Linked DNA regions of Homo sapiens: region 1 is linked to region 2. The links come from fine-mapping of genetic effects on plasma protein levels. A gene starts in region 2. The other region holds a variant in brackets. All regions are shown on one strand. Distances are from middle to middle.

What was found. A credible set is the group of variants that fine-mapping cannot tell apart. PIP is the posterior inclusion probability: the model's chance that the variant is causal. Protein levels are from antibody-based Olink assays in UK Biobank. Linkage for the fine-mapping came from a reference panel and not from the study's own genotypes, which makes the PIPs less certain.
Region 1: its variant is the best candidate, but not a certain one, in a credible set for the plasma level of the ENPP5 protein (UK Biobank, PIP 0.52).

The regions. Positions count from the first base shown.
Region 1 is chr6:46,141,294-46,146,682 of GRCh38, reverse strand. ENPP4 (ectonucleotide pyrophosphatase/phosphodiesterase 4) reads right to left here. Exons shown (of 4, transcript NM_014936.5): 4 at 1-3,407. The coding sequence ends at 3,043. Among named protein-coding and RNA genes, the nearest start is that of ENPP4, 14 kb to the right of the region's middle. The variant C/G (reference allele first, on the strand shown) is at 2,838.
Region 2 is chr6:46,168,536-46,173,924 of GRCh38, reverse strand. It overlaps ENPP5 (ectonucleotide pyrophosphatase/phosphodiesterase family member 5), which reads left to right and starts at 2,945. Exons shown (of 5, transcript NM_001290072.2): 1 at 2,945-3,117; 2 at 3,811-3,872. RefSeq lists a silencer at 2,714-2,773.

The DNA.
Region 1 (5,389 bases), 27 kb after region 2:
TTTAATAATTACAGTAAGAATTTTTTGGTAGATTTTATTCACACACATTTTAAAAATCATGAACAAAGTCATTAATTCTGAACTCAAGTAACAGTCAAAAATATTTTAATTTAAATTAAGGCACTACATACACATTTCTTTAAAGCACACTGATGTTATTTTATTTACACACTATTTTAAGAATTAACAATAAATACACATTTTCCATCTCCTCCTTGTCCTTCATTTATAACTTTATATGTTAACAAGGAAGTAAAACCCTCCAAATAAAAGGAATTAAATGCAATAATCCATAAAGCTTATCAGATATGGGCACAAGAAGGAGACACCCAAAAACAATGTAAAAACATTTTAATCCTTTAATGTTACAAGAATTTATCTATAAATTCTTATGCCATTCCTAGTGGAATAATAATATAAAACCTATACACAAACATTGAAATATGTTTTATTCTATTGCTATTTACCAGAAGAATTGCATATAAATAACAGCAGCAGAACTGTCCCTATGTTATACATGAATGTACTTATTCTGAATTCACTGACTGAATTAAAAACACTTAACTCAAACTTTTCCTATTACCTTGGGGTATTGTTTTCACAAACAAGTAAATGTTTCCTAGAGCCAAATACTTTCTACACCCAGAAAATAGAGCAGCATGTTAGTTATTTAACAAAATACACACCAAAACCTTAATGTGAAAGGCTAGTTTTACTATAAGATTTTTCTCAGTGTACTAAAGGAGTCAATGGCTTTAACAGTGATAATTTTTTAAAAGATACAAATGAATTAACACATAGTTCAATATAATATATGTTTTATTAAATAAATACTATTCTTCTTGTCCCATCAACATATACTTTTTAAATTTTTGCTTAATTTACAATTCGAGTTAATATTTTGAGAACGTAAGGAAAGACAAATAGGTAAATGTCTTGTTGAAAGGGTTAAGATACTGACAGGACATACCTTCCTGTTCCATCCTATATAAAATCCACTCATGAGTTGGATGCCAAGTATAGATTTCTGAAACTCATAACCACCAATCACGATAATGCAATCATTAAAACTCACACCATTGCAAGGACCAAGTATAAAATATTCTGCTACTATTTTAGATACTTCAAAAACATCCACTACTTTAAATGAAAAGCTTTAAATGTGTCAATGCTATTTGCTTTTTAATGGAAATTAAAGTAGAATTTTTCTATTATTCTGTTTCGATCAACTATTAACCTTTAGGATAATTGTTTTATGTGAAAAAAATTAGAAATTTTTTTAAAGCAAAATTAGTACTATTGGTTTTTATTTATTTTACTGTTCTTAATACAGTTAACTTATGACCAACAGCATGGATTATTTATACAGGGTTTGAAAATGCCTCTCAACAACCACAAATACAATAGGCAGCAAATACCAGGCTCAAGAAATTAGCAGTGACTCAATAGGACGCACTGTATGTTTGATGACTGGCACCACTGTTGTTCTTTACCATCACAGATAATCAATATTTAACTGGGCTGCATATTTATTATACTTTTATATTTGTAAAACAGTTACCAAGTTTATTTTATATTGTCAAAACTTTAAAGATCATACTATTAACTGCTTGTCTCACGTACTGATGAATGGTTCTTGAGCCCAATTTTTCCCCTACTAAATATAATCTAGTCTGTCACAACCTAGTTTCTTCATATTAATTTTGATTACTAGAAGGTACCAGCTAGCAAAGGCAGGATGACAGTTCTTCACAATAAACCCTTGGCTCTGAACAAACATGTTAAACAGAGGGATTATTTCTGTGATGCAAATACTGGAGAAAAAAGTGGAGGTAGCACTAAGGCTATTCTGCCACTTAACATATGAATGGTGTGAAAGACCAAAAGATACTAAATTTTGTTTAAAATTTCTTAACTATTCTATAGCCTAAAAAGTAAGGCATAAAGTCCCAAAGATAAATACAAAAATCTCCATTCCTCATTCTGTCCCAGTCAAATTGAGATTTGTATTTGGGTCATAAATTTTTCTGTAGCATTTGGATACCTCAGGTTACAACAAACATGAGAGAGTTAAATGATAAAAGTTAATGAAATTAAGTTATGATTTTAACTTGTGAGTTAGGAGAAAGTAAACAAATATGAAGTGCAAAAATAACCTTTCCTGAGATCTGTGTGCTTCAGGAATGTGGAAGCCTGGCCACAGTCCATCTCTGACCTCCTTATATAGTAAATCACATAATGTCCACACAACCACACACAAACACACTTGCACAGGCACACGCAAACAACTAAGTAACTTACATAAAGGCATTAAGCATAGATAGAGAGAAGAGCACTTGTCTCTCTTTTCTTCTGAATTTTTTAACAATAATCTTTAAGACTAACAGCTTAAGACATAATGGTGACAACTCAGGCTTTTATCAAATGGTCTTTGCTTTTTTTTTCAAATAGGTTTCCTTAAAATATTTCTTCATTTGCTATATCTTTTCTGTCTGCTCCAATTTTATTTACCATCACAGAGCATTTCCTACCTCAAGAGGGTACTTGAGATACAAACTAATTAAAGGTAAATATAAAAATATAGGAAGCTTTTCCTCCCTAATATACAAAATTCACAAATTGCATAAAGATTTCTGTTGTTTTCTTTACAAATATATAAATTTATTAGAAAAACATGCCTACTAAATTTTGGTATATTTTCATTTAAAGATGTATCACATCTTCATCGCAAAATACAAGCAGAGGAAGTATTTTTCTCAAAAGCCATTTTTAGTATTTCTAGTTAGGATTGATGTTACCTAATGATTTCCTACCACAAGATGTTACCTAATGATTTA[C/G]TAACAATTTTACTATGGTCAGCGTTATCTTATTAGCAAATGCACCGAAACAAAACACAAGGAAAACAAAGTAATAATTTTAACATGCTTAGTCTAAGTTCTTTGTCTTTCAAAGTATTCTTTTTCATAGTTACAACACTATTCTTTGGATGTATTCTTAGTTTTGTGATTAATCAAAGACACTTTGTATAAGCCCTAGCACATGTCACCCAATTAAAGGATCATCATCATCTTCTTGTAGCTGAAGTCGAGAAAATGGACGAGGTACAGAAAGTCTATTCTGCATGATTATTATGAGGCATGTTAGCATGGTTAACACCAAGAGTGAACCGATAACAATCGCGATGGCTTCTGGGAGATTAATGCACCACTGGTCAACTAACAAGCACTTAGTATGACCAAAGGTCCCATTATTGGGATGTGGTTTTAATCCCAGGATGTGGCACATCATTGGATAAATATCCACAATGTTAATTGTGCTATGCTTGTAGCCTTTGTGAAATGCAGGTCCGTGGGCAGCTAGAAATGGATGCATACTAGGCAAAGAATTATCATAACCATGGTCACCTACTGAAAAAGAACAAAACAACATCAGTCAATAAGATCAGACTTTTTAGGACAAAATAACTTGCTTCTAGTATATAAACATTCAATTCTTTCAGAAAGGGACTAGAAATAAAAATTTCTATTTCTTCAACTCAGCTATGTTCCATATTTCCCTCTCTCTCTCTCTCTCTCACATACACACACAAACACACACATATGCCCCTTTTCCCAACTGGTCATACCCTCAGACTTTACCACCACTTGTCAACCTGATGTACTTATCTTTCAGCCCGAGTACCAATTACTTCACTTGTCAATCTCAGCACTGTTTGCAAAAGCTCACTGCAAGCAGTACCAGTTATAAAGACAGTGGTCAGGCTGAGGGTTCTGTGTAACTGGGAAGAACAGAAGTGAGTAAGGCCAACAAATGGAGAAAAAGAAAATCTGCAGCCTAACCTATCTCAATTGTTACAGGAGGGATCTTGCGTTGAATGTGTTGTCTAATCTGGTGACTCTATCCCAGTAAAAGTTAGACTTAAAGAAAAGCATATGATAGTCCCTAATACAACTCCAATAATAAATTCCCAATTTTTAGCTTTATTTTAACAAATGTTGCCATTTAACGTACACCCGTTGTATTTAATAAGCTCCCACTTTCATATTAAGTACGGGTGACTGGGTGATGAGTATACTGATATTTGTTATATTATTCTTTGGTGGTATGTTTGAAATATTTCATCATAAAAATAACCAATATGACAAAAAGCAGAATATATAAAGATTTCAATAATATTAAAACACACACACATATATTAGAAAAAAATATATATTTTTCTATATATAATATATAATATATTCTACATATATATGTAGAAAATATATATTATAATTATATGTAATTATATATTATATATAATATATAATATACATTATATATATTATATATATTACATATAATTATATTACATATAATATATATAATATAGATATATATTAGAAAAGAATATATATATGAAAAAAGATTGGATGGGGAGAAATGTCCACAATTAACATTTGCCTATAAATCCATACTGAGGGATTATGGATAGTTTTTGTTCTCTTTCCTATGCTTTTCTATACTTTCGGTTGTCAACAACAAATATGCAACATAACATTGATGTAAATAATATACAAACTTCATTGATTCTGAGTCTGTCCTATGCTTGCCTGATACTTCTAAATTGCTATATATCAGGGAACTGTAAACTACAGCCCATAGCGAAGGTTAGCCCTCCATCCTTTTTGTAAACAGAGTTTCACCGAAGCACACCACTTCAATTTCTTTACAGGTTGTCTATGGCTACTTTTACACAATAAAGGCAGAGTAGAGTAGCTGAGACAGAGACCAGCTGGCCCACAAAGCCTAAACTATTTTCTATTTGGCCCTTTACTAAAAAAGTTTGCTGACCCCTACCATAGACCACAAAATTAGATTTTAAAAAAAGCATTTGAATTGAATATGAAATATGGATAAATAAGCTTCAGTTTGAGGCAAGCCTGTAACTCACCCCTATACATTTTCTCCCCTATATATTTTTTAGGAGAGATTTTGATGTATCTATTTTGTTCACTTGGTGGATTTGTTTGGTTACTTTCTGGTTCTTGCCCAGTGTTCTAAATAGCTGTAGCATTCAGGTAAATGATTTTGTTACTGGGGAAGACTTAGGGTTACTCAGACAAATTTTTTTTAACACACAAAAGAACAAGGATTAGCTAATCTCTCCCCTTTTACTGTTTCTTTACTTCTCTATTTTGTATAAATCAAGAGAATGAATCTTGAAAATTACTGACAGTAATTGCAGTTTTGGAAAGAAAGTAGGACTTTGCCTTCACTCTTAAATTTACTTTCTAATTTAAAGGTGAAATTGTGATTACTGTAAATTGCTATTAAATGAAGACCTGGGAATTATCTGGTTGAAAATTGAACTAATTATTCTGTGTGAACTTCTTTAAATCGAAGTACCCTC
Region 2 (5,389 bases):
TGGCCCTGAATACATCTTGATTTCAGACTTCTGACCTCCAGAACTATGTGAGAATACATTTCTGTTTGTCGTAAGTCACCCAGTTTGTGATAATTTGTTAAGGCAGTCCTAGAACTAAAACACTATGAATACAATTTACAGAATACAACAATACAAATAGGTTTATATTTGACTTATATAAAGCTTTCTGAGGATAAAAGCATAATAATTGCTTCTACAAAATTCATTCTAATTAGTTCAAGCATATCACTAGAAGCCTAATTTATTAATATGCATAAAAATTCTTGGGCTAAGTTTTTGACTATTCTATAATTCAACATTTCACTCATTGGACTGAACTTCTGCTAATGAGTCAAGATTAGTGAAGACCACTGTTTATCATGAATTAAGAGCAGTGCAGAAGCAGAATCCCAGTGGTTCCTATCTATGGCCATTGAATATGTGAGACCCACATTTTGCAGAATGTTCTACAAAGGATTAAAAGATGAACTTTCTTTTAGTTTAGTCATTTGTGGTATAATGTACTGGAATGCACCTTTAAAATTTTTTAATTGTAAAATTATGTGTTTATTTTTCCTATCATGAAGTCTAGTTCTGAAAAACAAGACTTCTGTGGTAGAGCCAGTTCTGGTTGTTTCTTAAAGAACAGATCCCTTTTCAGTTTTAGCACAAAGCTCTTCCAGCCCCTGACGAAGAAAATTGTCCCTCTCTCAACCTGTATTAGACTTCCTTGGGGAGGCAGAGGGATCTCCCTCCCCACCTGACCCCAAAACCTTTGAAAGAAAGAAGTTGGTTATTCTGTTACACTATTATTCAATTAGAATTCCACTAATTTAATAACAGAGAATAAAAGAATAGTTACAGTCAATAGCAGGTTGTGGTTTCTGCTGCTAAAACTTTCTGAAAACCTATTGCAAATAGACAGATACTGAGGCAACAATAAGACAGGAGGGCAGGTGCAGATGTGGGAGCAGGAATCTCATGTTTTACATTCATTCCTCTATACTATGTAAACCAGACTTTCTCCCCATGAACAACATAAGGTAATAGCAAGCCTATCAGGTGAACATTAGATATCATTATATGGACTTCTGGGAGGAATCTGGCAGTCTTATGAGCACTTTTCTGTGTTGTGCACTGTGGTTACCAGCTGTACCATGCCTATTTCACAGGAATAGCTGGTGAATATAATCATAACTTCCATAAAATTTGCAGAGCAAAGCAGGTTGTCATCCAAACAGAGTCCAACAATGTTCAGTGATCCGAACAAAAGTCAGGCCCATTTTCACCACTCCTGCTCTCTGATAAGCGTACATTGTCCTTTGAGTGTTTTGGGAGAGCACAGAGTTGACCTATTCTGGGGGACAAGGACTTACAAGATTGGACCACTCTGTTCCAAGTTTGGGCAATTTCAAAGGACAGGGCTTTGGGGAATTGGAACAACTTGTTCAACTTCATTGTGTTTGGGTCTCACTAAACATAGAAACCAGCCTCCCTCTTAATCCCCATCCCACGTGTTGAAAACCATAAACTCAAGTTACCACGAATAAAAGGCCATGGAAGAGTGCCCAGATGCCCTTCGGGATGGGATGACCCAGTTAGGAGGTAACAATGTTTGGGGTTGAGATTGTCCCTCTATTAGAAGCAGACAGAGAAAAAGCTATGACCAAAATGTTTGCATGGCTTAATTAAATATCAACAGATATCTCTATTCACTTTAAAGCTCCAGCACACCAGACAAGGGATCCGAGCTCCGGGCAGGAGCCAAAACCACCATTGCAGATATGCTCCCAGTTTTACCAGCTAATTAGATGTTAAACTTACATTGTAACAATCAACCTGATATTATTGCCTACTGCAGATAGAACTAGAATTCTAATTAGGTCAGAATTCTAGCTGGGATTGTGTAGATGGACAAATTCTTTCAGGGTAGTTTGATATCACTGCTATAATTTATGGTAAAGACAGTTGGGATCATACTGGCAAACTAAGTACCTGCCTACACTCCCTCAGGCCTAAAAATGCCATTGATTATCCCAAAAAAACTGAGAAAATAATCCACTACAGTACGGAAAAAGACAAAATAGGGGCACTAACACACAAGAAGCACTGAAGGCTTTCTGAAAGAGTAATCAGGCCTGATGTTTGTAGTTTTAATGTTTACTTTGCAAACAAAGGTAGAAACAGAGTCTGGAGCTCGGATGCCACCACCAGAGAGGGTGGCTGTTCAGCCTCTCTCCTGTGCAAATTAACCTAATTCTGAACCTGTCTTGGTTTAATTCGCACAATTTCAGGTGCCATGCTAGGTACACCACAAATATACCTCAGGGACCTCAATTGCAAAAACCTGGACTGCAAACGTTGGGGCTGCAGAGTTGACTAGGTTAATAAATTCTTTCTGAGGTAAAGCAGATAACACCCACTAATAAAAAGAATGAAACTTCATCGTCCCATTGGCATCCTCGGGTGTGCAGGTGTTCCTCAGAGCAAAGCCCATGGTGTGCCCCATCGCCAATTCGTGACAAGGCAGGGGGCGGGGGGCGGGGGAAGGAAAAAAGCCTGGGATAAGAAATCAGAGAATACAAGTCGCTTTTAAACAAAAAACAGTGACTGTTAGAGTACACCCACCATTGGGGTAACACGCAATAATCTCTCAGCATCACTGACTCCAGCACAGCTGGTCCCCTGGAAAAGGCACGTTGCCGGAAGGTTTTGTGTGTGACCAAGCAATTGGCCATCCCACGCCTTCGCCCTACCAGATGGGTCCCTGCCCCCGGGAGTCCCCTCCCCCTCCACCCTCCAAACCCAGGCAGCGCCCGCCCCTGCCCCCGCTGATTGACAGGCCGTGCAGCTACTCCTGGGAGCCTGGCTTTCGGGGGCAACCCAGGCAGAAGTGACTATCTCTGCAGCAGCCAATAGAAGCCAGGAGGCGGGGCGGGGAAGCGGCGCGGTCAGGTGCTCCGCTCCAGAGTTGAGCGCAGGTGAGCTCCTGCGCGTTCCGGGGGCGTTCCTCCAGTCACCCTCCCGCCGTTACCCGCGGCGCGCCCGAGGGAGTCTCCTCCAGACCCTCCCTCCCGTTGCTCCAAACTAATACGGACTGAACGGATCGCTGCGAGGGTGAGTCCAGGGGCGTGGGTGGCTTCCCTCCCGGGAACCCACACTGCTCCTCTGGGTCCCTAAAGCAACGTCCCCTCCTTGCCACTGCACATCTAAGAAGCCCAGGCCTCGGTGGGCGGGATGACTGGGAATTGGGAACATAACCTACGCCGCGACCATTCTGGGTGGCTAGGATGGAATCCTGGTGGAGAAGATGGACACCCCCGCCCTTGACGTCTACCCGAGCTACACAAACCTACTCCTTCTGCACTTTCCCTCTTCCGTTTAATCGGTGCCCCGTCCTTCCTGCTCTCCAAGTCTGTTTGTGGAGGAAGGGTTGGAGGGGAGAAAGAACTGGAAAGTACTCAATGAAATGTGGAGCCAGATCCAGGGATTCCACTGTTTTGTGCAGCATTTTGTGCACGAAAAAAAAAAAAATTCTGATTGTTTTCATTCCCCACCCCCCACCTCTGTTTATTGCTCTGTGTCATGGATGTGATGTTGAGTCTTCTTGCCAAACATTCCTAAGCTTTAGACAACACTTAATCTTTGCTTACTTTTGTTGGTCCCAAGAAAGCAGTTTTCTCCTGCTTACACATGTGCCGAATTAATTTGCTAAGATAGATGAAAATGAGGTGTTCCATGTAGTTTATTTCCTCTGCTTTTAGCCTTAAATTACATTTGGTTGATACTAGCCTTCCTTGTTTTAAAAAGGTGGGAGAGAAAATTAGGGGGAGAAAGGACAGAGAGAGCAACTACCATCCATAGCCAGATAGGTGAGTAAATATATTTGCAGTAACCTATTTGCTATTCCTTGCTGCAACTGTGTTTAATGTTCCTTCCAGAATCAGAGAGAGTATTGCCATCCAAGAAATCGTTTTTAAATATGACATTTGAGCTATCATCTTGAGACCAATACCTAAAACAATTTCAGTTTAAGAAATGTCTAGGTATGGTGAAAACACAGTTTAAAACCAGCAAAACAGAATTTATTGCCCTCAGCGAATACCCACAATGTACATATACCTTGTATTTCTGAAAGCAAAGCAAGCATGCCAAGTAGTTTTTATTTACCTGTACCTATAATACAGCAAGGTGAAACAGGATATATTTTTGAAGTTTAAAAATGTCTTCAGGCCGGCTGCGGTGGCTCATGCCTGTAATCCCAGCACTTTGGGGAGCCGAGAAGGGTGAATCACCTGAGGTCAGCAGTTTTGAGACCAGGCTGGCCAACATGGCGAAACCCTGTCTCTACTGAAAATACAAAAATTAGCTGGGTGTGGTGGCGGGCGCCTGTAGTCCCAGCTACTTGGGAGACTGAGGCAGGAGAATTGCTTGAACACGGAAGGCGGAAGTTGCAGTAAGCTGAGATCGTGCCACCGCACACCAGCTTGGGCAACAGAGTGAGACTCCCTCTCAAAAAAAAAAAAAAAAGAAGTCTTCAGCTTAGGAAGATATCAAAAGGCAGTTTCAAGAGATTTATTTGTACAAGTGTGGTTTGATCTAAGTTTTGGTGGGTTTATAAATACCTTCATGCAGGAATGGGTAGAAAAATGAGAGAACAAAAGATCCCTGCTGGATGTGCACGCCTGATGAAAACTGACAAAATTTACATATCTATTGTTTATCCATACAGCGTCTTATTAGCTTTCTTCAATAGAATGAAAGTATTTTAGAAATATACACAGATTAGGGGAAAAGACCAGCAACCTTGATTCACAGAGCTTTAAACCAGGGAAGTGCTTTTACTACACCTATCAATGATAAGATTAAATTTTGACAAATTTTAACATTAGGAAAGTCAACAACAAATTTCAGAATTATATTTCTGTTAATATTTAGTTTAGAATCTAATTATTTAGTTCAACGAATGCTGTGATTTGATTATTAATAAATGAATGCAGATTACTTTTCAATAAATATATCTGGATGTCACAAATGTTATTTCACTTCAAGAAACCAAATTCATCTATTTTCCTCTCTCTTTAGTAATACATCTTTTGTCTGTGATTAACCAAACATAGGGGTTGAAAATAGAAGTGTGCATATACATATATATATAATATATATGTATATGCACCATTATTCGATTTGCTAATGATACTTCATTGTTGCTAGGTTGCCATAGTTGCTCTAGCCATAATGTTAAGGATGTTCACAGGTATTTGACTATAAAAAAGTTTCTGACCAGAAGTCAAAAGTCTGGATCAACCTGAAAATGTTTCTAAAAGTTTTATGTAAATGATGTCATATTTTAAAATGCTGTTGAAGAGCTCACTTAAATAATTCCTTT